Linked DNA regions of Homo sapiens: regions 2, 3 and 4 are each linked to region 1. Evidence: fine-mapped expression QTL. A gene starts in region 1. Each other region holds a variant in brackets. All regions are shown on one strand. Distances are between the middles of the regions.

Evidence for each region.
Region 2: its variant is fine-mapped to the expression of IKBIP in whole blood (INTERVAL, PIP above 0.99).
Region 3: its variant is fine-mapped to the expression of IKBIP in blood mononuclear cells (TOPMed, PIP 0.92).
Region 4: its variant is fine-mapped to the expression of IKBIP in whole blood (TOPMed, PIP above 0.99).

The regions. Positions count from the first base shown.
Region 1 is chr12:98,641,088-98,649,229 of GRCh38, reverse strand. It overlaps IKBIP (IKBKB interacting protein), which reads left to right and starts at 4,442. Exons shown (of 3, transcript NM_153687.4): 1 at 4,442-4,707. The coding sequence starts at 4,529. APAF1 (apoptotic peptidase activating factor 1) reads right to left here and starts at 3,940. Exons shown (of 27, transcript NM_181861.2): 1 at 3,395-3,940; 2 at 733-911; 3 at 415-604. The coding sequence starts at 870. RefSeq lists silencers at 3,536-3,745, 4,066-4,265 and enhancers at 3,842-4,469, 4,470-5,096, 5,097-5,724.
Region 2 is chr12:98,614,150-98,622,149 of GRCh38, reverse strand. It overlaps a transcript of IKBIP not described here. Among named protein-coding and RNA genes, the nearest start is that of SNORA53, 19 kb to the right of the region's middle. The variant C/T (reference allele first, on the strand shown) is at 4,656.
Region 3 is chr12:98,732,682-98,740,823 of GRCh38, reverse strand. APAF1 (apoptotic peptidase activating factor 1) reads right to left here. Exons shown (of 27, transcript NM_181861.2): 27 at 5,391-8,142. It also overlaps a transcript of ANKS1B not described here. Among named protein-coding and RNA genes, the nearest start is that of APAF1, 91 kb to the right of the region's middle. The variant T/A (reference allele first, on the strand shown) is at 4,257.
Region 4 is chr12:98,712,950-98,721,091 of GRCh38, reverse strand. APAF1 (apoptotic peptidase activating factor 1) reads right to left here. Exons shown (of 27, transcript NM_181861.2): 22 at 5,540-5,665. Among named protein-coding and RNA genes, the nearest start is that of APAF1, 72 kb to the right of the region's middle. RefSeq lists a silencer at 3,175-3,375. The variant C/T (reference allele first, on the strand shown) is at 3,956.

The DNA of each region.
Region 1 (8,142 bases):
CTGACTTTTCATTCCCTCTCATATTGAAGACTGGGAAGGCAAGTGTAAAAGGAAGAACATTTATGGAATACCTTTCAAGAACATATATTTCTAAAGATTCTTATTTTTTCCTATAAACTCTATAAACACATAGAACTGGAAAATAAACAAGGGCCTATAAATTGTCTTATTGTCTCTAAAAATTAGGGTAGACATATTATTATCTCAGCAGTACAGTTCACTGGGCAAGAAGAAAAGTTGAGAGTTAATGTGGATGCAAATAAAAAATATTTAAATTGAAAACATCACTACAATTTTTTTAACATGCAGTTTTCAGTGAACTGGTCACACTCTCTTCAAAAGATTACATCTACAATAAGACAAACCCAAAGCAATTTTGATAGCAAAGTGATAGAAGGTATAATGGATACAAACCATACGAAGTTATTCCACTAACTGAATCTTTACCACTGGAAGAAGAGACAACAGGAATGCCATCATGGAGAAGGGCAGCAAGATCTTTATATCCTTCATGTAGTAGAGCATTGTAGAATGATACGTAGGAATCATTATCTTTTTTAAGTATCATTTTAATCAGCATAGCTGCTCTTTGCTGTTGAGTGGGCTAAAAAAAATTAAGTAGTTTAGTATACAACAATGAATATGTATGCAACATAAAGTAGTGGAGACCAGTACAAGTTCTGAAATTCTAAAAATTTTTAAGGAAGTGTGGACTGCTTCAGAGAGCTTTACCTCATTTCTTACTTTTTCCTCTTCTGATATTGTTAAAAATCCATCACTAATCATGTGATCCATGATGTAGGATGTCTTGATGTCCTTTTCCAGAGCTTCTCTATGTTGAAGCAAACAATTTCGAGCTTTTGCATCCATCTTCCCTCAGATCTTTCTCTCTCTGAGCTGTCAACCATGAGCTACAGCCAAAACACCAAAATATTTGTCAGGCCAATAAAAATATGAAAAGATACATAATCTCACTAATAAACAAGAAACGTAAAAAGAACAAAACTGATTTTTTTTCCTTGGCAAAAATTTTTAAATGGACAAAACCCAGTGCTTGGAAAGGTATGAGAAAATGGCCATTCTTATGCACTAATTGGGGAAACTAGAAAATGAATGCAATTTTTCTGGAAAGCAGTAAGATATGGAATTGTTTAAAATAAGCTTTCTCTCTAACCCAGAAATCCCATTTCTAAGGATTTACTTCAAGGAGACATTCAAATACATATGTAAAAATATCCACAAGGAGAATTAATGAGTTTCCAATCAGGTGTGGTAGCTCAAGCCTATAATCCCAGCACATTGGGAGGCTAGAGTAAAAAATAAAAAGAAAAAAGAATTAATGGAGGATGTTTCAGTGATGAACGCAACCTAAATGTCCATCATTCTGAATATAGATTTTAAAAATTAGGGTATGTATATAAAATGGAATATTATGCAGCCATTCAAAATTATGACACATATCTCCATGTATTGACATGGAAAGATGTTCATAATACTGTTGCTGAAAAAAAAAAAAAAAAAAAACAGAAACATGATCCCACATACAACACATAACGTGGGGGCCGGGCGCAGTGGCTCATGCCTGTAATCCCAGCACTTTGGGAGGCCGAGGCGGGTGGATCACGAGGTCAGGAATTCAAGACCAGCCTGGCCAAGATGGTGAAACCCTGTCTCTACTAAAAATACAAAATTAGCCAGATGCAGTGGCAGGTGCCTGTAATCCCAGCTGCTCGGGAGGCTGAAGCAAGAGAACTGCTTGAACCAGGGCGGCAGAGGTTGCAGTGAGCCGAGACCACTCTACTGTACTCCAGCCTGGGCGACAGACTGAGACTCTGTCTCAAAAAAAAAAACAAGTGTTGGTATCATATGAATATATATAGACGTTTAGAAGTTTATTCATCGAAATGTTTGAGTTACTTCTGAGTAGCAAAATTTGGGATTTCTCCCCCACCTTGTCTTATTTTTTTTTTTTTTTTAGTACAGACGGGGTTTCACCATGTTGACCAGGCTGGTCTTGAATTCCTGACCTCAGGTGATCCACCCGCCACAGCCTCCGAAAGTGCTGGGATTACACTTGTGAGCCCCACCATGCCCGGCCTCTACTGTCAATTTTTTTTAGCACACATTATCATTTCTTACAATAAAATACTTCCTTTTTTAATTAAGATTGTATAAAATAGTGATTACATTGAAGTCCTAATATTAAGAGACTTCTTGTTTTCCTTATCAAACATAAGAGTGAATAGAGCATTGTTACTATTGAGTATTAGTTCTCGTTCAAGGAGGATGTCAGCTCTAGGTCCTCCTTGCTAAACACATTTCCCACAAAGCAACAGGAAACACTTTCTGATGTGATTTCTCAGACCAGGAGGACATGAGGAAAGAATAACAGCCTTTATAGTAAAATACTTGACGTTTCTAGCAACTTTATTTCAAATATAATGCAAATTTTTCCATGGGCATAAAACCCAGTTCACAATATCTGCAAGTTTTCAAAACATTAACAGAACTTTACACAATGTATAGAGTGAAAGAGTCTAAACGGGTTTATCAATTCATTCATTCAATACACATTTGTGCCCCTCCCTATATGTCAGACACCAAGACTACAGAAAAGATTGAGTCATTTGCCTGAAATAATTCACAGTCTACTCAAAGAAGAAAAAGAGAGAGAGAGTGGGAATGTGAATGCCCGAAGTGCAAAAACAGAGCACAAGTAACTTGGAGCTCACAGAAGGGGGCAATAATTATCAAGCTTCAATGACTGTTTTTGAAGTCACCAAATGTAGCACTTGGAAAAACAGGGACGGACGTAGGGCATTTGCCTATGCTTGTCAAGGCTTACAAAATGCCCAGCAGGGGCACAAAACTGATAAAAAGTTATTGATTCGAATCAAAACTCTCATTTTTTAAAATGTTAATAACGTTTTTGTCCTCTTAAACATAAAATGTTCCTTAATTTATAGTAATGAAATTCGATGTGAAAAAACAAGAATGAATGAATTTTTTAGGTGATGTCCAATAGCTAAGCAAATAAGACACTCTGGTTTTCTGAAACTAATTTCCAATTTCACCTAGTCCTGTTAAACTAAAATATGCAAATCTTAAATACGTTTTAAAACTGCACAACTTATCTGAACTAAGTCTCAAAACCTTTTGTAACCCACAACAAAATGGAAAGCCAAAACTCTTCATGGACGTAAAACAGAAAACAGCGCACGTTTATCCACGAAAACCCCAAGTTTACTACTTCCTCATTACAGAATTTCTCTTCCTGGTACAGGAGCAGGATGGTTATCAAATATTCCATGTCCTCAAATTCTCAGTCCCTGAAATCAGCTACCAAGCCTCCAAAGAACCTGGCTCGGGGAGAAAAGCGAGGAGGTCAACTTACCCAAGCCTTTGCGCCTAGGTCTTAGTGGGGAGGGCGGCACTGCCGGGACAAGACTGGGAGACTCCAGGCCGGTGGAGGGAAACGGCAACAGGAGTTTTCCACCGGGAATTAGGGGTGCAGGGCTCTGTCTCGCCACATACCCTTCGCCCCGGGGCAGGTCCGGGCCTCACAGGCGCCTCCCCTGGATCTCTGCAGCCCCGGGGCGCACGAAGACCCCCAGGGACCTCCGAAGGTTGGCGAGGTGGGCGTCCACCCAACGCAGCCTGACCCCACAGTCCCGGAGCGCCGCGGTGAGGCCCGGCCCACGGGCCGCCCTCCGGTGGACCCCACTACTGGACACAAAGGGAGGAGGTCTTCCCGGCCTGTGGCGCCCTTCCCCCGACGGCGGCTGCACCCCGGAGGGAGCCCGGCGCTACTCCGGATGCCGCTGCGGCACCTCAAGTCTTCGCGGGTCGCCGACTGCCCAGACTCCCCACCTCTGGTTCTATCCCTTTTGCCCGGGATAGAGCAGTCACGTCCACTCGCTACCTCTTCTTCTCCGCCTCTGGACAGCGGAGCAGTCAAATCCCGCCGGATCCACCCAGCCCGGACGGCGCGCGCCCGCTTATGCAAATAAACACACCCCAAGCCCCAAGGGGCGGCCACCGCTGCCGCCGCGCACTCCTGCCACGGCTCATGCCCGCGCGCGTAGAAGTGCCCGCCTACCCCGCGGACGGGGCGTGGCTAAGCCTCAGGGACGCGCCGCGTTCCCACCAATGCCGGACTCGGGCAGCGGCGGCGCGCCCGACGTGGCGCGCGCGACCCCTTCGTCCTGCCCCTCCTCCTCGGGTCCCGTCGGCCTGCGCGCGCCCGGGAGTTTGAATTTCCTCGGATTTGGAGCAATATCGCAGTGGAAGGCGCTGTGGGTTGAGGTCGCCGCCCACCTCTCCTAGGGGAACTATGGAGCTGGCAGCTGAAAGACTCAGTGAAGCAACGAGGATGCCGGGGAGAGGGAAGGGGCTGGGCTCTGGGCGGTGCCAAGTCTGTGAGGGGGCGCGGTCACCGCCCAGGGTTCCCACGAACGCCAAGGCGGCCACGTCCTGCTCCCCCTGGTGAAGAAGCTGCCCTGGGCTTGTCGTCCTAGGGTCTCCAGACATGTCTGAGGTGAAGAGCCGGAAGAAGTCGGGGCCCAAGGGAGCCCCTGCTGCGGAGCCCGGGAAGCGGAGCGAGGGCGGGAAGACCCCCGTGGCCCGGAGCAGCGGAGGCGGGGGCTGGGCAGACCCCCGAACGTGCCTGAGCCTGCTGTCGCTGGGGACGTGCCTGGGCCTGGCCTGGTAAGTGGACGCGAGGCTGCCTGGGCCGGCCTCCTGTGGGCCCCCTGCTGTTTGGGCTCCCACCCGGCTCAACATCCAGCCGGAGGTGATCCAACCTCCCAGACCTGGGCCTTCTGTGCCTCTGTCTTGACCCCAAAGGAAGGAAACAGCCCAGCCTTGTTTTTCCCTTTCGGGCGTTTCTTGTATCTCATTTCCCCCCGTGCTGGTAGCATGCCCCTATCGCTCAGAAGGAGTTGAGGCTAAGGTTTGGGAACGAGCCATTTGTTAAGAGCTGCAGATTCGGCCACGCTTTCTGAAGCTCCCGCTACACGTCAGAAGCGTTCACGTTGTTATAAACCGTTACTTCCTGTCCGCTGTGCCCCATTCCGGGACACATCTGCCCCACCCTACTCACCCCATAAATACCTAATGGAAATACTTGCAACCTTAAAACAGATCATTATGTTTGGAGACCGAGGCAGGTGGATCACTTGAGGTCAGGAGTTCGAGACTAGCCTGGCCAACATGGTGAAACCCCATCTCTACCAAAAATACGAATAATCAGCCGGGCGTGGTGGCGGGCGCCTGTAGTCCCAGTTCCTCCGGAGGCTGAGGCAGGAGAATCGCTTGAACCCGGGAGGCGGAGGTTGCTATGAGCCAAGATCGCATCACTGCACTCCAGCCTGGGCGACCGAGCGAGACTCCGTCTCAAAAAAAAAAAAAAAAGAAAACCATATCATTATGCTCCCAAAGGAGCAAACGTTATAGTAGCAGAGCTTGGAGGAGTGCTCATATTTTGATCACCGTGCATGCATTATGAATTTAAGGTCTTTTATTAAGTAAGTTACAGATTGAATATGGTAAAGCTACAAAAACATAGCACTTGTGTTCACTTAAAACTAACCAGTTGCAGTTTTAAAATCAGGTAAATGGCGATATATTGGTGTCATTAGGAAAAATGAATATTAGAAATAACCTTAAAACCAACTCGTAAAAAAAGAAAAAAGAAAAAAACCAACTTGTGAATTTTATTTTCCCAGCCTTTTTTTTTCTGGCGGGAGGAGGGAATAGCCCATTTCATTTTAATAAGATTGGCATCTTAATAGAATTTTTCTCCATTTTTCATTCATGTGTAAAGTTATTTAGTAAGACTGTTGTTAATCTTCCAGAGTGATAGAATTTTAGAAGAGACCCTGGACATCTAGACATTTTTTATGCTACTACATATGGAATTATACTTTACTGGTGACTCATCCCAAATAGTGTATTTTTCAGAGTTAAAAGATTTGTTACGGCTGGGCGCGGTGGCTCACACCTGTAATCCCAGCACTTTGGGAGGCCGAGGTGGGCAGATCATGAGGTCAGGAGTTCAAGACCAGGCTGGCCAACATGGTGAAACCCTGTCTCTACAAAAAATACAAAAATTAGCCAGGCTTGGTGGCACAAACCTGCAATCCCAGCTATTCAGGAGGCTGAGGCAGGAGAATCACTCGAAATGGGGAGGTGGAGGTTGCAGTGAGCTGGGATCGTGCCATTGCACTCCAGCCTGGGCAACAGAGCGAGACTCCATCTCAAAAAACAAACAAACAAAATTTTGTCACAATAAAGTGATTAAACGCCCTCTTCAAAAACAATAGAATTGTCAGCCTGCCGGCAGTGGCTCATGCCTGTACTCCCAGCACTTTGGGAGGCCAAGGTGGGTGGATCACCTGAGGTCAGGAGTTTGAGACCAGCCTGGCCAACATAGCAAAACCCTGTGTCTACTAAAAATACAAAAAAGCCAGGCATGGTGGCATGCTCCTGTAATCCCAGCTACTCAGGAGGCTGAGGCAGGAAAATCACTTGAACCCAAGAGGCGGAGGTTGCAGTGAGCCGAAATCGTGCCACTGCACTCCAGCCTGCAGGATGGAGCAAAACTCCTTCTCAAAAAAAAAAAAAAAAAAAGCAGATAGCATTATTTATTTTACTAATACGGAATATGTTAATTTTGATCTGAAAGGAATAAATGTACTGAATTTACTGTTTTAAATAAACGGCTCTTATGCCTTAAAATGCTTGACCTCCTTTAAGTAAATTGAAAAAAAAACCTTTTTGGGCCAGGTGCAGTGGCTTGCGCCTGTAATCCTAGCACTTTGGGAGGCCGAGGCAGGCGAATCACTTGAGGTCAGGAATTTGAGACCAGCCTGTCCAACATGGTGAAACCCTATCTCTACCAAAAACACAAAAATTAGCTGGGCCTGGTGTAATCCCAGCTACTCAGAGGTTGAGGCAGGAGAATCACTTGAACCTGGGAGGTGGAGGTTGCAGTGAGCCAAGATCTGCTACTGCACTCCAGCCTGGATAACAGAGCGAGACTTCGCCTAAATAAATAAGTAACCTTTTGTGTTTTGGGAAAGTTAGTTACTATCCTGGGATAAGCTTTAATAGAAAACTAAACTTTATGGGAATAAAATTTCCCTCACATCAGGAATTTGCTGTTAGTGATTCCTGTATTACATTGTAATGAATGTATTACATTCATTAGGAAGATTTAATTTGAACTATGTTTGCAAAATGATAACACAATGCTATATCAAAAATAATTTTGGGGGCCAGACCCAGTGGTTCATGCCTATAATCCCAACACTTTGGGAAACTGAGGCGAGAGAATTGCTTGAGGTCAGGAGTTTGAAACCAGCCTGGGAAACATAGTGAGACCGTGTCTACGAAAAATTTTTAAATATTAGCCAAGTGTGGTGGCATTCGCTGTAGTCCCAGGTACTTGGGAGGCTGAGGTGAGAAGATAGCTTGAGTCTGGGAAGTCAAAGCTGCAGTAACCCATGATTATACCACTGTGCTCCAGCCTGAGAGACAGAGCAAGACCCTGTCTCTCTAAAATGTATGTATTATATGTGTTTTTTATGGGCAGATTCTATAATTATTATTTAAATAGTTGCCTCTTAGTTGCTCTTGTGAAATCTTTTGCTGCAAAAATTGAAGCAAATGTACTTTGGTTGCTGTTTATTGCAAAATATTTATTCATAGTAAATTTTGAAATAAAAATATATCCCCATAAGACATTTGTAAACATTTTCCAGATAAAAAGCAAGTATTTGGCATCTTAAAATACTTAAAAGCTCACTAGAATTTTGACAAAGCCATTGAGATCTTTACCACTAAAACACGTAATTCAGCATCTAAAAGTCGGTCTATCAAATCTTTATTAAATGCTTTCCGTACTGACACGGCCCTGGTGGTTAAAATACAAGTGCATATGTGTGCCTGTCTGTGTACTCTTAAATACTGCTTACTCTCACTCTTCATCTGATTAAGTTGGAGGGAAAAAATCTGAACCCTTCCACTGCCCAAGAAGGATTTCAAGGAATCACACTATATCATTGTCTTCAGACCATTTCCTATGTGGAAAGAAAAGAGAAATAATACATAAGAAACTTAAAAGTGTGTTGCTTTAATATC
Region 2 (8,000 bases), 27 kb after region 1:
ACATACCCACACGTATGTCAAGCATTTCTAGGAGATGTACATTCATCATAATCATTCCTTTTTTTTTTTTTTTTTAAGATGGAGTCTCACTCTGTCCCCAGGCTGGAGTGCAGTGGTGCGATCTCAGCTCACTGCAACCTCCACCTCCCGGGTTCAAGCGGTTCTCCTGCCTCAGCCTCCCGAGTAGCTGAGACTACAGGCATGCGCCACCATGCCCAGCTAATTTTTGTATTTTTAGTAGAGATGAGGTTTCTCCATGTTGGCCAGGATGGTCTCGATCTCTTGACCTCGTGATCCGTCTACCTCAGCCTCCCAAAGTGCTGGGATTACAGACATGAGCCACCGCGTCCAGCCTTCATTATCGTCATCATAACAGCTCTATATATTGATTACCTACCTTGTGCCAGTCATTATCACTAATCCTTACTACACCTTTACTAGCTATTAGACCCATTTTACAAATAAGGAAATGGAGACTTAGGAACATTGGGAATCTTGCAGTCACACTGTAGACCTAGGTCTGTTCAATTCCAGAGGCCAAGGACATCTCACTACACCATGGAGCCTGCTACTGTTCAACTAGGGGAGAAAAATCACAACAAATCTGCTGTTAGTAGAACTATCTCGATAACTCAAAAAGCAATAATTGAGTCAAATGTGTTCTCTACCATGTTGCCATTAAACCAGACTCAGTCCCTCAAAAGCTGTAGCTGTGCTCTAAAATTGTTTGGCCCTTGAGCATGAGAAGGAATCAATAAATGAATAAATGTTGGAGAAGAGGAAAAAGCAGTGCTGAAGAGTCCTAGGCTGTACTCCTCTAATCTATTAATAGGTTTTGCCACTGCATATTCTGGGCACTTTATTTTAGGGCTTAGGTTTTTTTTGTTTTGTTTTGTTTTTTGAGACAAAGTCTTGCTGTGTCGCCCAGGCTGGAGTGCAGTGGCACAATCTTGGTTCACTACAACCTCCGTCTCCTGGGTTTAAGCAATTCTCCTGCCTCAGCCTCCCAAGTACCTGGGATTACAGGTGCCTGTCACTACACCCGGCTCATTTTTTGTATTTTTAGTAGAGATGGGGTTTCACCAGGTTGGCTAGGCTGGTCTCGAACTCCTGACCTCAGGTGATCCACCCACCTCGGCCTCCCAAAGTGCTGGGATTACAGGTGTGAGCCACCACGCACGGCCACTAGGGCTTAGTTTTAAATAGTAAAAGGAGAGAATTATATCAATAATCCCTAAGATGCCTTCTGGCTTTAAGTGGTTTTATTTACTTATTTACCCTTTTTTTAATATAAAAAAAAGTAGAGGTGAGGGTCTCTCTATGTTGCCCAGGCTGGTCTCAAACTCCTGACCTCAACGGATCCTCCGTCCTTGGCCTCCCAAAGTGCTGGGATAACAGGTGTGAGCCACTGCGCCTGATCTAAATGGTTTTAAATTATACAGATCAATAAAATTTCCAGGTCCTTTAATAGAATTCAAAGAACCTAGCTGGGTGCAGTGGCCCACGCCTGTAATTTCAGCGCTTTGGGAGGCTGAGGTGGGTGGATCACGAGGTCAGGAGATCGAGACCATCCTGGCCAACATGGTGAAACCTGTGTCTCTACTAAAAATACAAAATTAGGTGAGCGTGGTGGTGAGCGTCTGTAATCCCAGCTACTTGGGAGGCTGAGGCAGGAGAATCTCTTGAAACCAGGAGGCAGGGGTTGCAGTGAGCTGAGATGGCGCCACTACACTCCAGCCTGGGCGACAGAGCAAGACTCCGTCTCAAAAAAAAAAAATCCTTTAGCAAGTTTTTAGAAAGCAGATTGGACCTAGAAATCATATTCTTGAACCATGTTGCTGTGCTTGTAGATCCAGGCAATGTTTAACATTACAGGACAGCATCTAACCTCATACCTTGAATATATGATAGGAATTTAATAAATATTCTGGCCGGGGGCAGTGGCTCATGCCTGTAATCCCAGCACTTTGGGAGTCTGAGGTGGGCGGATTACTTGAGGTCAGGAGTTCGCAACATGGTGAAACCCCGTCTCTACTAAAAAAAAAAAAAAAAAAAATAGAAAACTTAGCCAGGTGTGGTGGTGCATGCCTGTAATCCCAGCTACTTGGGAGGCTGAGGCCGGAGAATCACTTGAACTCAGGCGGCAGAGGTTGCAGTGAGCAGAGATTGCACCACTGCACTCCAGCCTGGGCAATAGAGTGAGACTCCATCTCATAAATAAATAAATAAATAAATAATCAAATCACTGATGTACTTTTTTTTTTTTTTTTTTTTTTCTGAGAAAGGGTCTGGTTCTGTCGCCCAGACTGGAGTGCAGTGGCATGATCTCAGCTCACTGCAACCTCTGCCTCCCAGGATCAAGCCATCCTCCCAGCTCAGCCCGGCTATTTTTGTAATTTTTGTAGAGATGGAGTTTCACCATGTTGCCCAGGCTGGTCTTGAACTCCTGAGCTCAAGTGACCCATCCACCCCGCCTCACAAAGTGCTGGGATTACGGGCGTGAGCCACCATCCCCAGCCTTCACTGATGTGCTGTTTTCAGCTACTGATAGACTCTAACTCTTCTATCCATCCTAGGCAAATAGGTTAACCAAACCCGAAGTAATTTTTAAAATAACTTAATACAACAATCTGTAGACTATTACCACACTGTATTGAGCTTATATTTTCATAAAGATCAATAGAAGTTCATGATACATTGCTATTATAAACAACCAAGTGAAACAAAGAGGTTTACTAACAGCTTCTTCCTAATAATCTGATCCTTCTAAGAATAAGCTAAGCTCATTCATCAACATCTTAATTGTTTAATTGCTATTAAGCTACTTTTACCAGAGTAGATACATTAATAAATGATAACCTGGTAATGAAATAGATTAAAGTAGCCGTCTAGTCCTTTCTCCCTTGGGAGATTGTTTCATCAAATACACTATGTTGCAAAACTTCCTCCTTAAAAATAAAATGTGATTTTGCAATCACTTCTTGGTTTCCTTCCTATTTGTGGCTACCGCTTAATGTCATACCCACAGGAACATTTCGCAAACTCACTTCTCTACCAAAAAACACATTTTGGGCCACCTTATCCACCAATAATTAATTTAAGCATAAAGCAATTGAGGAGAAAAATCCTCAAGTGTATTTTGAAATTAAACATTTATGATGGGGCGAAGTGGGGGGGTTGCTACTTAGAATTATTTTGTCCTACTGTCCCATTTCTGTACTTCATTATAATTATTTTGCAACTATATGGATGCTTCTTTTTAAAGCTGCCCTCAAAATAATATTCTGAGCATAATTCATTTTTATTTGTGTTAAGTAAAACTAAATGTATGATAACCAAAATAATCTCAAAAGGTTGGCATTAGCCAAGTAATCCAAATACAATTTAAGAAAGATAATTCAAGCTAGGTGTGGTGGCTCACGCCTGTAATCCCAGCACTTTGGGAGGATCACTTGAGCCAGGAGTTCAAGACCAGCCTGGGCAGCATAGTGAGACCCCCATCTCAAATTTTTTTTTTTTTTTTTGAGACAGAGTCTGGCTCTGTCGCCCAGGCTGGAGTGCAGTGGCACAATCTCGGCTCACTGCAAGCTCCGCCTCCCGGGTTCACGCCATTCTCCTACTTCAGCCTCCTGAGTAGCTGGGACTACAGGCGCCCACCACTACGCCCGGCTAATTTTTTGTATTTTTAGTAGAGACAGGGTTTCACTGCATTAGCCAGGATGGTCTCGATCTCTTGACCTTGTGATCCGCCCACCTCGGCCTCCCAAAGTGCTGGGATTACAGGCGTGAGCCACCGCGCCTGGCCTCAATTTTTTCTTTTAAGAAAGATAATTGATAAGAAAACATTGAAGAAATACACAATTATTTTAGAAAAAAAGATATCTTTAGATTAAACTGCATATTTAATTTTGTAAAAATGTTTTACAGTCTATTTGTTTTTATAAATTTTAATTTCAATTTTTTTGTTTTAGAGATGGGGGTCTTGCTATGTGCCCAGGCTGGAGCACAGTTGGTATTCATAGGCACAATCATAGCACACTACAGCGTCAAACTCCTGGACTCAAGCTTTTTTATTTCTTCTTTTCTGAATTTTAAGTAACACATTTATCGACATTCTGTGTCCCAAACTAAACTACAAACTCCCTAAAAGCAGAGACTGTTCTTGATCATACTAGGACATACTGTAGTACAGTATATGCTGTCAAATCAAACTAGTTTTGGTTATTAATAGAAAGTTATAATTTCCTACTTTACAACATAGTACTTTCCTAGAAAACAAGCTGAAAGTTAAATATGCAAAAGTCAAATGATTGACTTACACATTATAAATGGGATTCTTTTTCCAGAGTAATTACTGTATATCTGTCTTTGGGCATACGCATTAGCAATGTATTTCTAGCCATTTTACATTTGTTTCTTAATTTATTTTTCTTCATAATTGAGCACACAGTCCATAGGCTAATCTTCTGATTGAAGCTAAATAGTCTTACCTGATTTCCATCTTTGTTTTAATTGTACGACTTTATCCAACTTTGTGTGGTTTATGAGATCTACCCATCTTATCGCTATGTAATTTTCCCTTCTTCATTTTATTAACTGATGGCACAATGCAATAAAATGTCAAATATTTAAAGTTCGATAAAATACTCAACTCC[C/T]CAACACTGCTATATAGGCACGCACATGTGTGTGCACAGACACAGGACCATCACCACAAACAACAACAAAAATAACAACTCAAGATGTTGCCAGACACTTGGGTGGCTCCAAATGTTTATCAGTTAATGTGTCCAAGTTAAATCAAGGTGACAATTTAAGAGCTTTCAGTTCATAATGTATAGTGGGGAAGAAGGATGACATTGAAACATACAAAAGTTGAAAAACAGCTGCATTTGGAATCAGAATTTTAGAACCTTGGAAATTCTTTTCTTTTACTTATCTGTCTTCTCTACTAAACTAAGTTGAGGCCACAACTCGAGTTATACTCATCTTTATGTTCCACATATTTTGCATGCCTAACAACATACTAGGAACTTGAGAATTTGAATTATTCAAGGTCTCATGGATAGTTAGATAGGCCAGAAAACTGTTCATAAAAGTTACAGGCCAATAAAGCGTAGACATATAGTCTTGGACATTGGTCCCTTCATTCTAGCATTTGCTATAACTTATTTGCAGTTGCCTTAGACCCCGAATAGCCAAAGCAATCTTGAGCAAAAAGAACAAAGCTGGAGACATCACACTACCCGATCTCAAAATATATTACAAAGCTGTAGTAATCCAAACAGCGTGATACTAGCATTTAAAAAAAAAACATAGACTAATGGAACAGAGAGCCCAGAAATACTTCTACAAGTGTATGTTCAAATGATTCTCATCCAAGTTGCCAAGAACACACAAAAGGGAAAGGACATCTCTTTAATAAATGCTGTTGAGAAAACTGGATATCCTATGCAGAAGAATGAAACTGGACCCTTATATCAAACCATATACAAAAACCAATTCAAAATGAATTAAAGACTTAAATGTAACACCAGAAATTGAAAACCGCTGGAAGAAAACATGAGGAAAAAGCTTCTTGACGTTAGTCTTGGGAAAGATTTTTTTGAATAGAACCTGAAAAGAACAAGCAACAAAAGCAAAAATAGATAAATATGATTGTGTCAAACTAAAATCTTCTGTACAGAAAAGGAAACAGTCAACAGAGTGAAGAGACAACCTATAGAATGGGAGAAAATACTCATGAACCATAAATCTGAGAATGGCTTAATATCCAAAATATATAAGGAACTCAACTCAATAGCAAAAAAAAACCCAATTAAACAATGGGCTATGGACATGAATAGACATTTCTCAAAAGAAGACATAGTAATGGCCAACAGGTATATGGAAAAAAATGCTCAACATCACTAATTATCAGGGAAATGAAAAATTAAAACCACAATGAGATATCAACTCACACCTGTTAGAATATTTATTATCAAAAAGACAAAAGATAACAAGTGTTGGTGAGAATGTGGAGAAAAGGGAACCATCGTACACTGTGAGTGGGAAAGTATAGCCATTATGGAAAACAGTGTGGAGGTTCCTCAAAAAAAAAAAAACTAAGAATAATCATATGATCCAGCAATCCCACTTCTGGATATATATCCAAAAGAAATGAATCAGTATGTCAAGGAGTTTTCTGCACTCCCATATTCATTGCAGCATTACTCCCAATAGCCAAGATATGTAGAATCAACCTAAGTGTCAATCAACAGATGAATGATAAATAACACACACGCACACACACAAAATGCGGTTCTCCCTTTAAAAAGAAGGAAATCCTGTTATTTGTGACTACATGGATGAACCTAAACGATATTATGCTAAGTGGAATGAACCAGGCACAGAAAGACAAATACTGCATGATCTCAATTATATGTGGAATCTAGAAAAGTCAGACTCATAGAAGTACAGAGTAGAATGGTTACGAGGGATTGGAGGGGACAGGGTAGGACAATTGAGAGATGTTGATTAAAGAATACAAAGTTTCAGTTAAACAGGATGAATAAGTTCTGGAGATCTATTGTATAGTATGATGACTGTAAATAATAATAATATATACTTGAAAATTGCTAAGAGGCCGGGCGCGATGGCTCATGCCTTATAATCTTAGCACTTTGGGAGGTCGAGGCGGGCGAATCACTTGAGATTAGGAGTTTCAGACCAGCCTAGTCAACATGGTGAAACCCTGTCACTACTAAACAACAATCAGCCAGGCGTGGTGGCACACAACTGTGGTACCATCTACTCTGGAGACTGAGGCAGGAGAATCACTTGAACCCAGGAGGTAGAGGTTGCAGTCAGCAGAGATGGGGCTATTGCATTCCAGCCTGGGTACAGAGTGAGTGAGACTTCCATCTCCAAAAAAAAGAGAGAATTTCTAGGAGAGTAGATCTTAAATATTCTTACTACAAAAAAAAATACATGAGGTGATAGATATGTTCATTAGCTTGATTTAATCATTCACAATATGTGCGTAGATATGTATATCAAAATATTACATTGTACACAATAAATATATACAATTTTAATTTGTCAATTATACCTTAATAAAGCTGAAATAAAAAAGAACTTATGTTGCCTTGTCTCACCTAGCAAAGCTCAACTGGAGGAAACTTCCTTTTCCCTTCTCCAGCAACTGAAAAACCACATCACTGTCTCATGTAGCTCATTTTATTACTGTACAGAAGACCAATTGTGAAAATATTATAATGTAAAAAATGTAATTTCCAGGGACATTTCATGAAATTTTCTTAATGTTTCCTTCTTATTCATTAGTAATTCACTTACATTGTTCTAAATTCTCTTACTTCTGAAGTCGTCTTTTACCATATGCTTTCCAGAAGAACAGTAAAGTGTAGTTAAAAAATAACATAAGGCAGGGCGTGGTGGCTCACGCCTGTAATCCCAGGCATGGATTTAGGAGGCCGAGGTGGGCAGATAACCAGAGGTCAGGAGATCGAGACCAGCCTGTCCAACATGGTGAAGACCCGTCTCTACTAAAAATACAAAAAAAGTTAGCTGAGGTGGGGGCGGGTGCCTGTAATCCCAGCTACTTGGGAGGCTGAGTCAGGAAAATCGCTGGAACCCAGGAGGTGGAGGTTTCAGTGAGCCAAGATCGTGCCACTGCACTCCATCCTGGGTAACAGAACAAGCCTCTGTCTCAAAAAAAAAATTAAAATTAAAAAGAAATATAAAATTTAAGATGAATTTTAAATGGTAAGCTTCTAATACATTTAATCATTGTGATATTATATTTTCTTATAGTGGCAGAAATCTGAAGCTATCATGGAACAATTGAAGTCTTTTCAAATAATTGCTCATCTAAAGCGTCTACAGGAAGAAATTAATGAGGTAAAAACTTGGTCCAATAGGATAACTGAAAAACAGGATATACTGAACAACAGTCTGACGACGCTTTCTCAAGACATTACAAAAGTAGACCAAAGTACAACTTC
Region 3 (8,142 bases), 92 kb before region 1:
TCCTGGAAGCTCCACCCCACAACTTCTGCATACAGCTTATTGGCCACCCCTATGTAGGAGGATGGAAAATGTGGCTGCAATTGTTAGTTTTAGCTGAGCACACTGCAGCCCCCAACAATGCAGGGGTTGTTAGTGAGGAAAAGGGGGAGATTGGATATTGCGGTGGTCACTGGCAGTGTCTACTACATTGGGAATCATCACAGTAATAGCTAAAAGGCAAACACAAGCACACACATGTGAGACACTTGAACAGAGAAAGCAGTGCCTGTAAGAGGGATTGGTGATCATCCTGACAGAGCTGCTCTATAAATTAGCCACCAAACCTGAGCAGGAAAGATCCCCACAGCTGGGTTAATATGCACACCAAACATCTGTGCTGTCCAGCAAGCTCCTGAGAATGTTATGGGCAGAGCAGGCACAAAGGGGCATGCTGCATTGGCAGACATCGCAGCATCATGGGCTGTGCTAAAGGAGGAGACTGGCAATGAGTTGGTTGGGCATCAAGGGTGAGAGTAGAGGGCGCTGGCTCTCAACCTCCACTGCACACTGGAATCACCCGGGGACATTTAAAGCCTCCCTAGGAAGTGAATCCTTGAGGAGATTAACCCATTTGCTGAAGTCACACAGCTGGAAAGTCAGTGTAGCCAGGGTTGAACTTAGATCCACTTGACAGCCAAAGCCACACACATACCACCACACTCCCAAGCTACTGGCCCCAGCAACAAGCCCAGGGTCTTTTCTCCCCTCATTCCCAGTCTTCTTTACCACTTGATGGGTGTATGCGTCGCCCAAAGAGAATCAAGTTCGGGATAGTTCAAAAGAAAGCAGGTGACAGCTTTCCTGCTAAGTAAGCAATGTCTGTCTCCTAAAAGCCAATGGCCATAAGGAGAAGGAGGTGGTAGAGGAGGGTGCCTGGAGCTAGGTGTCTGCCATGGAGCAGAAGCAGCAGGGTCGCAATTTGTGAATCATGGAGATTTGGGCAGTACAGGAATGGGGGTTTGTAACTGGGACGAAAGATAAGTATTATGCTGTTTATTGAGATCTATATCAGATTCTTGACATGTTTTTTCTAAGCCCCACAAAAGCCTTGTACATTAGGTTCCCTATTTGACAAATCAGGAAAGTGAGGCTCTGAGGGGCTGCATCTTTTTTCAAATGAAAGGAAAAGGAGAAGGGGGGAGATGCAATCAAGATGGCAGAAGACAGCACACAGATCCACTAACCAAGGCCTGCCACTAATTTGAAATGAATCCCTTAAGAGTTTCAAAGTAGAAACAGGCTTCCCCAAAGGGAAGGCAACAGTAGCTCTGCTACCTTCCTTGCTCAATACCTGAATCATCTGAGAATTGAGAGCAGGTTGGGCAGTGGCCAGGTGCTGGCAAATCCAACGCATTCCCCCCACCTGTCCCATCCATTGGCTTCTATCAGAATGTTCCTGCTGCTTTTTTCAAAGAGCAATCTCTACAGGCACAGATACAAGTTAAGCAGACTACCAAAAGTAGAAGCTCCTTGGGAGCAGACAGCATCTGATGCCTTCTCCGAGAGCTTAGTAGTGATGCATCTGTCCTGATGCAAGTGAGTAACGAATGAAATGCAGAACTGAAGTGATGCTCTTGGACCCTCTAGCCCAGGGGCTTCAATGAGAAGGTACAGGGAGTGTCACCCAGTGGAGACAGAAGGCCGTGGACCAGAAACCCAGCTCCACCACTTGGCTGTGGGGCCCTGGAAACCTAACCTCTCTGCATCTGTTTGCACACCTATGAAAGAGATAACACCTTGCAGCACTGTTATGATTCAGTTAAATAACGTATGGAAAATGCCCAGCCTGTGGGCTTGGCACATAAAAGGCCCTCAAAAAATAGTAGCTCCCTTCCTTCCTTCTAAAAGACTTGGTGTGTCTCCAGAGGTTAATTGACAGCAAGTAGGGCAATAAGCCCAAGATGAAGGGCTTAGTGAAGGGCTCACTGCTAATTGAAGGTGAATATAAGAACATCTCCAAAACCATCACGTAAGCTATTGGATGACTTTCCCCAGCTAGTGAAACCAAGCCTTATGACCCCTAGGCTGATGTCATCTGCCACTGAACCCAGGAGTATTCTACTTCCAGTTGTGACTGACAGGTGACTTACAAGCCTAAGAGTCTTGGCCTTTCTATCTATAAAGAATAGCAGATTTGGATTCTAGCCCTGGCTTTGTCACCGATTAGCTGCTGGGGTTTAGTTCTTCCTCTATCTAAAAACTGAAGCTGCAGTCTGCAGATCCACTCAACTTCTGTGAAGATAAATGAGAGTTGGGCAGTGCCTCGAGTGGAGCGGCGATAAACATTTGAATGAATGCGAACGTGTGCTCCTCAGAACAGCAGGAGTCTCCACTCACCTGCTCAGTTTTCCAGTTTGATCGGTTGCTCTGAACCCCCAGACCCAAACTCAGGCCTCGACCACCCTCTCTAGTTACATATTCTAGCCCTGGGTGATGGAAATTACAGAGGCAGATTTTTCTATTCATTTCTATGTGATAAGGAGCATTCCCAGTTCTGGGGGCCTGACCTCATAAATGAATTTACAAAGAACACCAGTGACTCATTTTCCTGAATCTTAATTGAAATGAAAATTTCCCAAATTCTGGTTTTCTCACATCATTTGACTCAGGAGCAAGTCATTGTTGATGCCAGAGGACTTCAAAGGCCTGGTCTCTGCTACGTCTCAAATGTGACCCCCTTCTTCTGCCCCTCTCGTGTGAGCATATACAGTAATTCTTCTATAGTTAAACTCATAGCCCAAGAGCAGCAGATTTTCTAATTCAGGCATTTTAATAACTGTATAGTATATCCACGGTCCCAAGGGGAGTGGTTATGAGCAAGGAATGTATTCCAGTGACAATCTTCAAAGACTAAGAATTATTAGAAAATCATTTTCTCCTTCGTTAAAGTTCAGTGAGTAAATTATAATATAAAATGTCTGTGGAATAATAGATGGCCATACTTGCTGACTTAAACACTCCAGGGATATGTTTATTCATTTTATATAATTTGGTAGCAAACCTCTTTTGTCCAAGTAAAGTTTTACTTTCCCCTAATGATGTTTCACAGAAAAAGGCCAAACTAAAACGGCAAGATAAAATGCTGGTGATATGCTACATCTTCATTTGACAGCCTCATGATATCCTTATGGAAAGGAAGAACATAGACTGTGTTATGAACACGTGGGCAAATTCATCCCATGGAACTCAGGAGATGAATTCCAGTCATCCAACAAGTGTTTACTGAGGCCCTCATTGCAATGCTAGGCTCATGTTAGACTCTATACAGTCCTGGCTTTCAAGGAGCTTACGATTTACTGGGGACCTCAATAAGCAAGCAATTCCAAAACAACAAAAGCCATGACAGAGAAAAGAGAATGCTAGGAGAGGGCAGGGCAGCCCTTCAGCTCTTGAGGGTCATCTTAAAGAATTTGTGAAACATAGGGAGTTAGCGGGGAAAAGAAAATCGGTGAGAGGACAGCATAGAGAAAACAGTGTACACAAAGCTACAGAAGAGAACTTGGAGCAGGTCCAGGGTTTAAACAGAAGTGTAAACACAAAGTTTAAACAGAGAAGTTTAATGTGATTCAGATGAGTGCTCTGGAAAGATCATGCAGAAGGGCACAACTGGAGGCAGAGATGGCAGCTGGGGCTGTTGCCAGGCAAAGAGGAGGGAGCTCAAATGGCATTGCAGAATGTCCCCTGAGCGGTCTCTTAGTGCAGGCAATGAGATAAGTGCTTCAGGAGCTTTATCTCATTAAATCCTACAACAATCTGGAGGGAGGAACGGATCCTCATTTTTCAGATAAGACAACTGCTGATACTGTCCTGTTTTCTTATCATCTGTTGTCCCCATGATCTCTCAACAACTCAAATGTATTTACTTATTGCTTCCTCTGCTGCTTAAAACAGTGCTTGGCATGCAGATGCTCAAGGAGTACAGGATAGATAGGTGGGTGAATGAGCAGACTGATCAAGGACTACAGACAAGAAGACGTTAAGGGGCCCATGCCTGCTGCATTCACTGTACTTACCACACTAATTTGCAACTCTTAGTCTCTGCTGGTCCTTTTTAGTCTCCTGGGCTTATCCCTCATCCCACTGATCTCCAGACTGCCCTGGACTCAGTCTTGGGGCCCCCTGTCTTTTCTATCTACACCCACTTCACTGCTGATTTCATCTACTCCTCTGATTTTAAATACCATCAATTCACTGATGACTCTCAGATTTCTACCTCC[T/A]GGTGGAGCTTTCCCATGAACTCCAGAGCCTTGCATCCCGCCTACTCAGCATCCCCACCTGGATGTCTCGTTAACGGGCATCTCAAACTTACCGCGTCCGCAAAGCTGCTTTCATTGTCTTCATCTCAGCTGACGGCAACTCTCTTCTTCCAGTTGCTCAGGCTAAAACCTTGCATCATTCTTTTCTTGTCTCTCTCACAACCTTTATCCAATCCATCAGCAAATCCTATTAACTCTTATCTTCAAAATATGTCCAGAATCCAACTTGTCACAAGCTCTGCTGCTGCCACCCTAGTCTGGCCCACCTTCATTTTGTCCGGATGATTACAAAAGCTTCTCACTGGTTCCCCTTTCAGTTGATTCCCACTGCCTGGGTGATTCGTTAAAGCTTAAATCAGACCACTGCTCAAAACTCCTACACTGGCTCCCAGAGTCAAAAGTGAAGTCCTTACTGTGGCCTAAGAGGCAGCCTCCGGTGCTACCCCAATTCCTCTCTGCCTCTCCTGTTAGACTCCTCACACTCACCCTTCTCCAGCCACATGGGCCGTCTGGCTGCTCCCAGAATACACCAACCATCCCACTGGAGTCTGCACCTGCTGTATCCTTCAGAATGGTTTCCCGACAGATGCATAGCTCACTTCCTCACATCTTTCAGGTCTGTACAAGTGTCAGCTTCTGAAAGAGCCAGTCCATCTAAAACCGTAACCCCTTCCCCTCCGCTTGTACATACCACCAAATTCACTATAGATTTTACTTATTTACTTTTTCTGCCTCTCCCTGGCCCTTAACTGCAGTAGAGCAAGACTTTTGTTTTGCTCACTCCTGTGTTCCCAATACCTACCACAATGCCAGGCACATGGTACATCTCAATATTTATTAAACAAATGCATGAACAAACTAAGTGAATAAATAAATGAATTCTCTTTTTTACAGGATCTTCTTCATGCCAGCCATACCGGGCAGGAACCATCAGAGAGACACACTGAGGAGGCACTCAGAAAATTTTGATAGAATTGAATTTACATATAGCTGATAAAGCCTAAATAGAAAGGTTGATGTATTTAGCTTGAATCCTTCACTTTAGTGGTCTAATCAACAGATAAATGACAAGCAAAGAATGAAACAATCCAAAAATGTTTTTCAAAACAATTTTGTGAATTTTATTTTTACAAAAATTTTTTAAATTCATATTTTAAAATGTATACCAAGGCAAAAAAATCATATAAGCTATATCATAAATACAAGAGTTTCAAAACATACAAGAGACATATAATGTAAAAAAAAATTATATATATGAAGTCCAATGTAATTTATAATACAAAAAAATACAGCAAGGGAAAATGCTTTAGAAATGCTCATCTGCAAACTACAAAACAAAATCCTCCTCTTGACCGACTGCATGAACTGCCATGAAATTTGCAGCTCCATCATACTAGGTATCTCTTCTTTCTTCATGTTACCTTGTCTTTCTTCCCATTTTTCTTTTAAGACAGGGTCTTGCTATGTCACCCAGGCTGGACTCAAACTCCAGGGCTCAAGGAATCCTCCTGTCTTAGCCTCCCAAGGAGCTGGGATTACAGGCACGTGCCACCGCACCTGGCTCCTAATTTCTTTTTAAGACAAGGGCCATTCAAGGCTTTTTAAAACCTGATGTGTGTTGTTATACTTTATAACAGTCAGTGGCTTTTAATTCCAAAAGGTAATACTTTATACTCTGCCTACATGAGATGAGCCCCTAACAGTGTGTACAAATAAAATTATGATTTGGGTATTCTAAGGAGACATACCATTTACAGAAATTTCTTTTGATAAAATTAAGGTTTCACTTTTCACATTTGCTTAAATCACAGTAAGCCTGTAAACTAGCTCCTTGACCCACCATTTAAAAACAAAAAACCTCCTTAACAATGCAAAGGATTGTATTCACTGTATTTATGATTCCATCAAAGGCTAAATAGCTTATCTAAAATACATCTGAGTGATCTATTCCCTTACCCTCTCCCCGACCTACCCCACAGTTATACTAATATGCACCAACAATAAAAACAAGTTATCTACTATTAACACTAGTAATCATTTGATTTAGTTCCAGTTACAGAAACAAAAAAAATCTTTGAATTTTGATTATATTTTCTGGGAACCACATCTACTATTAATTTATCTCCATTGCCCTTAATAATATATTTCAGAGAAAATGTTTCTTTAGATTTACGCTTCAACTAAAGTTCCTGATCAGGAGGTCAAAAATAGCTAGTTATTGAGTTTTTTCCCCTGTCAAAAGCTATTTTTCCTGATTAACCTTGGAGATAAAAGAAGAGAAAGGAAAGAAGGAAGGAAAAGAGGATGAGAGAGACAAGGGAAAGGAAAATAGGTTGGCTGGAAGGTTAATCTTCTAGAGTTACAGTGACTCATCTGGAATTACACAGAAAACCAGAGAATTCTCTTGAAATTCATTAAAAGAATGGCATTCACAATGCCATTCATCTAAAAGTAAATGGAATTAGATGAAAATTGTTCTATTTCACATTTCTTAGAAAAATCTTATTAAGGCTTATGATTAAAATTGGCCCCACCTCAATGACTAACATTTAGCAGTGGAGAAACTGCTTTTTAAAAAAGAAAAAAGTGAGGATTAGGAAAGATCAGGTTTCATTCAAGTAAGAAGTCTGATATGTAAGAAACAAGAGGGAGCAGGAATAGTGTCCAACTCAGATACTGACAACTAGAGTCCAGATATGGCACAGGGCTGCCAGCAGCTACAGTGAGAAAAGGGTAGACCAATAAAATCTACTCTTTCCAACATACAAGTTTTACTTCACAAAAAGAACTGCTGAAGGCCAGGCCAGTGGCTCATATCTGCAATCCCAACACTTTGGGAGGCTGAGGCAGGAGGATTACTTGAGGCCAAGAGTTCAAGACCAGCCTAGACAACATAGTGAGACCCTGTCTCTACAAGAAAACTTAAAAATTAGCTGGGTGTGGTGGCTCGTGCCTGTAGTCTCAGCTACTTGGGAGGCTGAGGCAGGAGGATTGCTTGAACCCAGGAGTCTGAGGCTGCAATGAGGTATGATTATGCCACTGCACTCCAGCCTGGGTGATAGTGCAAGACCCTGTCTCCATTAAAAGAGAAGGGGCCTGGCCAGGCACGGTGGCTCACGCCTGTAATCTCAGCACTTTGGGAGGCCAAGGCGGGTAGATCATGAGGTCAAGAGATCGAGACCATCCCGGCCAACATGGTGAAACCCCGTCTCTACTAAAAATACAAAAATTAGCCTGGCATGTGCGCACACCTGTAGTCCCAGCTACTCGGGAGGCTGAGGCAGGAGAATTGCTTGAACCCAGGAGGCAGCGATTGTGGTGAGCCGAGATCGCGCCACTGCACTCCAGCCTGGCAACAAAGCAAGACTCTGTCTCCAAAAACAAAAAAAAAAGGTGGGGGGGCCTGCTAAATCCAAGACTCACTTATTGAGTCAATTAAAGGAAATGCTGCAGACTATGCACACAGACACAATATTTTTAAAGCAAATTTAAAGAGTGCAAAAAACCTCTAAGATTGTATTTAGGAGAACAAAACCCCCTTGGGGTAAGTGTGGTTCAAAAAGCAGGCCACTGCTACCCTGAGGCACAGCCTGCATAACAGTAATAAATACAGACAGTATTAAAATACCAATTTCTTCCAAATTCTTCTCATTAATTATGTCAACCATTTTGAATGCATCAAGACAGAATTTTACCAACAGTACAACAAGGTATGTATTCACATTTTCATTTGCATCCTAAGGACAAACTGTTAATGATGATCATGAAAAACAAGATTAAAGGTATGTTCATTTGGGAAAAAGCTACATTAATATTATTCATCCAACCACAAACACTTTTGTAATGA
Region 4 (8,142 bases), 72 kb before region 1:
GTTTGGGGATGTCTCTATCATTGACTATTTTTGCAATGTATATATACTTGTAGAATTTTTTTCAGCTATATGAATAAAATTTAAATTGTAGAAATGTTAAGGAAATTTTTTTTTTCTTTTTTTTTGAGACAGAGTCTTGCTCTGTCGCCCAGGCTGGAGTGTAGTGGCGGGATCTCAGCTCACTGCAAGCTTCGCCTCCCAGATTCATGCCATTCTCCTGCCTCAGCCTCCTGAGTAGCTGGGACTACAGGTGCCTGTCACCACGCCTGGCTAATTTTTTTGTATTTTTTAGTAGAGATGGGGTTTCACCGTGTTAGCCAGGATGGTCTCGATCTCCTGACCTCGTGATCCGCCCGCCTCGGCCTCCCAAAGTGCCGGGATTACAGGCGTGAGCCACCGCACCCGGCTGGAAACTTTTCATACCAGCAAGAACTAACATAGTCCTATATACTGGCTCATGTAAGCATGGGTAATACTTGGCCTTTATTTACTTCAAGGTAAAGGATCAAAAACTACCAAAGTAGACCTCAATGTTCACAATCCTAAGGGCTATAATCAGGTGAGCTGATTCTTCAAAGTTTGGCAATAACTTCAGCTCAGCAAAGATTTACAGAACCCTTACTGGATTCCAGGCTTTGGGGATACAAAGATAATTAAAACAAACCTCCACTTAATCATTTACAAAAACCTTAAAAAATGAAAACAAAACCCAACCAGTCATTTCTCGAAAATATCTATAGAGTTTTGTTACATTTAAAACACTGTAAATGTAAAAAGTATTCTGAGTAGAACAGAAAAAGAGGAAGAAACACAACTACTTAACTCATATTTCTAAATATAATCTAACTCCTTTTCTAAAAATATCTCTAGAAATTATTCTTCCCCCTAGCTGAGAATACCTGAAATCGTCAAGCTGGTCATAAAAACCTTATGAATTTAACTTTTGATAGAATACATAGTATACAATGTCTCAAAAGAACTTCATCAGATGTAGTTTTTAGTTTTACCCATTCCAAAGACATCTGGAGAGGAAGAAAGGTGACTATTACACTGAGTTTTACAGCTAGAACACCAGTGTCATGGGAGCCTATAACAAGTAAGTTTCTGTACTAAAGCCAAATTTCATTGCAATCATACTGCTTCCTAGGACTCACACAGACATAACATTAAAAGATCTTTTTCCCAAAAGGGTTTTTAACAATACAATTAAATATTGCCACCACAATTAATATATATACTAAATAAAAGAATATAATAATTTCCACTGAACATATGCATTCTATCCTTCACTTCTAAAGCCCTACTAAAATGGCAAGATCAAAAGAATGAGAAAGGAGATAACAGCAACAAAATGTGGGAGGCTGGAAAGCAAGAGAATGGTAACTGACTCAGCAAAGTCAAGAAAACAGAATCCTAAAGGCATTATAAAAAGTCAAAAGTGGCCAGGCGTGGTGGCTTACGCTTGTAATCCCAGCACTTTGGGAGGCTGAGGCGGGAGGATCACAAGGTCAAGAGATCGAGACCATCCTGGCCAACATGGTGAAACCCCAACTCTACTAAAAAAAAAAAAAAAAATTAGCCGGAAATGGTGGCACGGGCCTGTAGTCCCAGCTACTCAGGAGGCTGAGGCAGGGGAATTGCTTGAACCCAGGAGGCGGAGGCTGCAGTGAGCCAAGATCATGCCACTGCACTCCAGCCTGGCAACAGAGCAAGACTGTCTCAAAAAAAAGAAAAGAAAAGAAAAAGTCTAAAGCAACAAAATCGGCATTATGAACTCCCAAAATGCTCAAAAATGGAAGGCACTAAGTATACCCAAAGGAGGAAATGAGGGTGGGGCTAAGAATATAAGTATTAAGAATTAGGAGGCAGAGAATCCTAAGATAGCCACACAGTGTTCACCGAAAAGTGCAATGGAACAACTAGAGAAGAGCAGGAGACACTGAGTGTGAGGTACAGTCTGGAAGGACTGGAGCAGTGTGAGCCTTGTGAGCTCTCAAAATTAACCAGAACAACCCTACAGTGAGGAGAAACCACAGGGAATAGAATCCAATGGAGTAGAACGAGGATAAGGGCATCAAAGGAAAGAGAAGGTCGAAATAACTGAGAGGGAAGGAGATGGGGCAAAGAGATCTCCTAAGAACAAGGCCATTATATATTTGAGATGGGGACTTGCTCTGTTGCCCAGGCTGGAGTGCGGTAGCATGATCATAGCTCACTCCAGCCTGGACCTCCTAGGCTCAAGCGATCCTCCAACCTCAGCCTCCTGAGTAGCTGGGATTATAGGCATGCACTACCACACCTGGCTAAATTATTTTGTTTTGCAGAGATGGGGTCTCGCTATGTTGCCCAGGCTGGTCTCTAACTCCTGCCTCAAGCAATCCTCCCACCTCAGACTCCCAAAGTGCTGGGATTAAAGGTGTGAGCCGCTGCGCCCAGTAAGGCCATATTTTTAATGCCTCGTGAAAATAAGAGAACGAGCTGCAGAGCTGTGAAGCTAGAAATGCTGGACTTCCCCACTCCTCCAAGGAGTTTAGGAAACTTGATTTTACATAAAAAAGAAGGCCGGGCACGGTGGCTCACACCTGTAATCCCAGCACTTTGGGAGGCCAAGGTGAGATCACTTGAGATCAGGAGTTCAAGACCAGCCTGGCCAACATCGTGAAACCTTGTCTCTACTAAAAATACAAAAAAATTAGCTGCATGTGATGGCAGGTGCCTGTAATCCCAGCTACTCAGGAGGCTGAAGCAGAAGAATCACTTGAACCTCGGAGGTGGAGGTTTCAGTGAGCCGAGATTGCACCACTGCACTCCGGCCTAGGCAATAGAGCAAGACTGTCTCAAAAAGAAAAAAAAGAAAGAAAAAGAAAAGAAAAGAATTGCTGTTGAATCCCAAAGTTACTATGGGAAAAAAAGGAAGAAAGTAGACAGACAGTGACAGCAAACTAGAAAGAAGAATCTCTGAATTTAAGGGCACCAGCACAACTGAGGGTAGAATTACAATTCTGAGAATGAGGGATCAAGGGAAGGTGTACATACTAAATGTTGAGATCCAACATCTATTAATACTTCCTGTTATCTTCCCCAACTTAGCTCTGAGAACCTGCCAGCCAGGTTTATCCTCCAGGCAAAAGACCAGAAAATTCCTCTCTAGGAATCTGAGGAGACCAAGACAAAAGACCTGAAGATACTCACAACAAAGTTTCCCCTTTCAGATTCACCTTTTAGAGAAGATCTCAGTCAACACACAGAGCTTTCAGCCAGTTGTTCAGTACAGATCTCTGATAGCCAATGACCACTGAGAGCTAAGGAGGCCTTCAAAATAGGAGGTCAAAACAACCAAACAGAAAAAAGCAACTTGGAGGGAACAGCAACTATGCAGCAAAACAAAAATTTATGGGGAAAAAATTATATATATAAGCCAGGCACAGTGGCTCATGCCTGTAATCCCAGCACATTGGGAGGCCAAGGTGGGTGGATCACCTGAGGTCCAGAGTTCAAGACCAGCCTGACCAACATGAAGAAACCCCATCTCTACTAAATATACAAAAATTAGCAGGGTGTGGTTGTGCATGCCTGCAATCCCAGATACTCAGGAGGCTGAGGCAGGAGAATCGCTTGAACCCAGGAGGCGGAGGTTGCAGCAAGCCAAGGTCGCACCATTGCACTCCAGCCTAGGCAACAAGAGTGAAACTCCGTCTCAAAAAAAAACAAAAAAAAATTATATGTGTGTGTGTGTGTATATAATTTCTATATATATATTATATATATTTACCTGTCTGTGTGTATATCTCCTCAGAGAGATAAAATATTCTATCTACAAAATAAGAATTTAACACATTAGAAATATACTAGTAGAAATGAAAAACTCAATAAAATGGCTGGAAGGCAAAACTGAGGAAAACTCCCCAAAAATAGAGCACAGTAGGCCAGGTGCGGGGGCTCATGCCTGTAATCC[C/T]AGCACTTTGGGAGGCCGAGGCGGGCGGATCACAAGGTCAGGAGTTCAAGACCAGCCTGGCCAGCATGGTGGAATCTCATCTCTACTAAAAAAAATACAAAAAATTAGCTTGGCATGGTGGCATACGGCTGTAATCCCAGCTACTCAGGAGGCTGAGCCAGGAGAATTGCCTGAACCCAGGAGGCAGAGGTTACAGTGAGCCAAGATCGCGCCACTGCACTCCAGCCTGGGTGACAGAGTGAGACTCCATCTCAAAAAAAAATAAAGAAAAAAACATAAAGCACACTATAGAAAGATGAAATGTGGAAAAAGAAAACTAGATTATCAGTCCGGGAGATCTAACATCTGAATAATGGGTGTTACAAAAAGAGAAAGCAAACTGGAACAAAAAGGAAAGAATCAAAGAAATAATTCAACTTCCATGAATTAAAAATCATAGGTTTCCAAATTGAAAAGGAAGACTGAATATCCAAAACAATGAATAAAAACTAACAACACAGTGTATCATCAGGAAATTTCAAGATTCTGGGGATAAAATGAAGATCCTAAAATCTTCCAGAGAGAAAGATTAGGCAGCAAAATGGCTTCAGACTTTTCAACGTGAACTTTGGAACTTGGAAGAAAATGGAGCAATGTCTTCAAAGTTTTAGTGTAAAATAATTTCCAACTACACCCAAAGGTCAAATTTTCCTAAATTGCGTTAAGGCAAAAAATGCATTCACAGTACCCTTAGTACACAGTGATCATAGTAACAGGAAGGATCTAAACAAAATTTCGTTATAATTGGGATAAATGGATTGATAAATGAGTGTCTGTGAACGTGTGCATGCACATAAGCTGAAGGCAGGACAGGTGGAAGGCGGAAAAAAGCAACATCTTCCTGTAGGGAATTCGGTAGATAACTTCTCAAATGGGAAAATCAAGAAGAGCACTATAAGCATGCCATATAGAGGCATGAAGGTAATATCAAAAGAATCATCTAAAAGCTAAAAGTGGTGCCTCTGGAGAACGAGAAATGGGGGAAAGGGTCTGTTTTTCATAATAAGTCTTGTAATACTATTTGAATTTTAAAAGAATGTGCATTGGGACTTTAATAATCAAGTAAATTTTAAAAGAATATATAGTAAGTTTAGGCCTCCATATCCACAATTCTTTATTATGTCAAACCATTCTCTTTTCACAGAATTTCATTCCTGTAATAAACATTTTGTTCTTAAAAGGAAAGAATGAAATGATTTCCATTGGATTTTACTACTGTAAAGAAAAATAAAGAGAAATTACATAAATGTGGCAAAAAGTATACTTACTGATACAAATCCAAATACCAAGACAGGCAAGAAAATGCAAACAAACCCTTCATTTTCAAAATAAACAACCTTCCAACAGAGGATTCTAAGATAAACTGTCTGCCTCACCCACAGAAAAATATGAAACACCCATAGGTTTCATCTAAGCCCATGTACATAATCTGAATGTATGCCCAACGTAATGTGTTTAAAATATACACCAGATTTTAGGCATAATCATAGTGTTCCTTTGCTAGAATCAGCATTAAATATGTTAAGAGTTCATCCTCCCTCTCACCTGAATTTCAGCATCATCAGAACTTGAAATAAGAGTCTTCTCATCGGCTGTGAACTGGATGTGCCATACAGTTTTCTTGTGCTGAAACCTGGACTGGAAGATTCTATTGTTTACAAGTTCTAAAATCTTCAAAGCAGAAAAACACAGAAAATTAAGAAGAAACTAAGCAATACATAGGCATTACACCCCAAAGATATTAAACTAAAATTAGACTGGAGGGTACAGAATTTCCATCTGGTGCTTCCAGCCTAATTAAAAACAAATGAATGTCATATATATATATATATATATATATATATATATATATATATATATATGCACACCATGTATGCCTACATGCAAACATATTGGACCCTAAAATAAAACACTCACTGCAATCATCAGACAGCAGTAGGAACCAGTGGTCCTTCTGAGTACTCAACTACCCACTTCATCAAACAAGTGGCTGTCTGGGCTTGCCCTCCAAAAAAAAAAAAAAAGACATTTAAGATGGATAAGAGAGAAGAAAGTAAGTAAGTCCTGGATGAGAAGGCAAATTATTCATAAAACAACACAAACAAGGAAAGATAAAAGATGATGAGGGAGACAGGATATCAGAAGGCTGGTGGGCAGTGCAATGAGAATACTTAAGAGGGCCAAAGACTAATAATACTCTAAATAAAAGTAGTAACAAATTCAAAAGATAATGACTATGTCAAAAAAAAAAAAAGAAAAAAAAAGGCTTTCAAATGAACTCATACCAAAAAAACAAAAAGAGAGGAAATATGTTTCATTGACCAAATTAAAATGTACTCAAGAAAGCCTAAGGAAAATACAGATGATGCTAAAGCAGGAGACACCAGAAACTCAAACCTAACCCACGTCTGGAAGAAAAGCCCCTTGAAAACAAAGGGGAATTGTGTGAATGGAAACCTTCCTAAATGAGCGGGATGAACGATCTCACAAACCCTGAGGCAAGGGCAGGATAGCATAACAGTTGAGCACACAGCCTCAGAGATCTGGGTTTGAATCCTAGCTCTGCCACTTACTGATTTTATGAAAATTGTGGAAATAAGAGTTTAGACATCTTTAAAACAAGAATAACAACATCGAACATCCAGGATGTTATAAGAATTCAATGAGAGCATCTGGCACAGTAAACAGTTAATAAATGGTAGTTGCTATTATTTGATGATATGAGGCTACACCATATGAAACTGCCACTTTATAGGTAAATGCTGGTAATTTCACATGGTTCATTATGTATTATTTATATTATTTGATGACTTTGAGGGAACTAACGATGTGGATGAAGCACATATGTGTGTTGTGAGTTTATTTTTAAACTATCTAAAAGACTTATTTTAAGATAGATGGTAAAAATGAAAAGAATGTGGTACTGACTTGGCATCAAGGTAAAGAGAAAAGGGAAACCAAGGACTCTTTAAGAATAAATAATAATACACAACAGTTTGAGAGATGAGCCTGAGATGGAAGCCTAAGGTTCACCTGTAAACATACAATTATCCCTTGCTTAAGAAATACATATCCATGATGTACTTTATCCCAGAATAGTACACATCTTAACAAATGATAAATAAATTTTTCACAATAATAAAGAGAAAACAAAGCCTGAACTCTCAATCCATGACATAAGGGCCATGACAAATATATAAGAGTATTGAGATCACTGTGTAAATGCTTCCTTCTTCACTTTGTGTCTAAGCATATAGTCTCTTCTCTGTGGGGCCATATGGACTAGAGAATATTTGTGTAATTCCTTATGAAAATGAATCCAAAGTAAAATAACTGTGGCCAGTGCCATAAGTAATTGGTTAAAAAATAATTCCCAGACACCTGGTGAGAAAAAGTGAGAGAAGGAACCAAGGTTTTTGAAAAACCACTATAAAGCTAGAGAAAATGTGCTTTTGGGATGAATTTCACTTGTGATAAAGACAACAATATTTTTACCCAAAATGCCTTTTATTATACTACATTTTTGCCTTGCAAAGTGTTTCTATTTTTACCTATTTGGTCTTGTTAGATAAATTAAGGATTTCAGGTGGTGAACTGAGGTTCTTCTGCCACCAAAAGTAGAACAGCAAGGATTGGTGGAACAGGCAAGCACAGGCAGCCCTGCACCCATATTCCCCATGAGCCTTATCAGTACCGAAATGGAAACAACTTATACCCCACATGGCTGGGCTTCTAAGAAGAGGAGAAAAAAATGCTCTTTGCATAGTTAGCGAAATCTTGATAGATAGTATTTGATATATGTGGAGAACAGCCAAACAACTAAGTAGAGAATAAGGGACATAAAAAGACAAAAAGCATGAGAAACAGTAATAAAGGAAATCTGAAAAATATACAGCCAACTGGATAAGATGATTGTTAGTTTAACGAACAATGACTAATAGATCACAGAAAGATTTATTTAGTATAAAAGTGTACAATAGGCTGGATGTGGTGGCTCATGCCTGTAATCCCAACACTCTGGGAGGCCAAGATGGGTAGATCACTTGAGCCCAAGAGTTTAAGGCCAGCCTGGGCAACACTGGTGAAACCTCCATCTCTACAAAAACAGAAAAATTAGCTAGGTGTGGTGGTGCATACCTGAAGTCCCA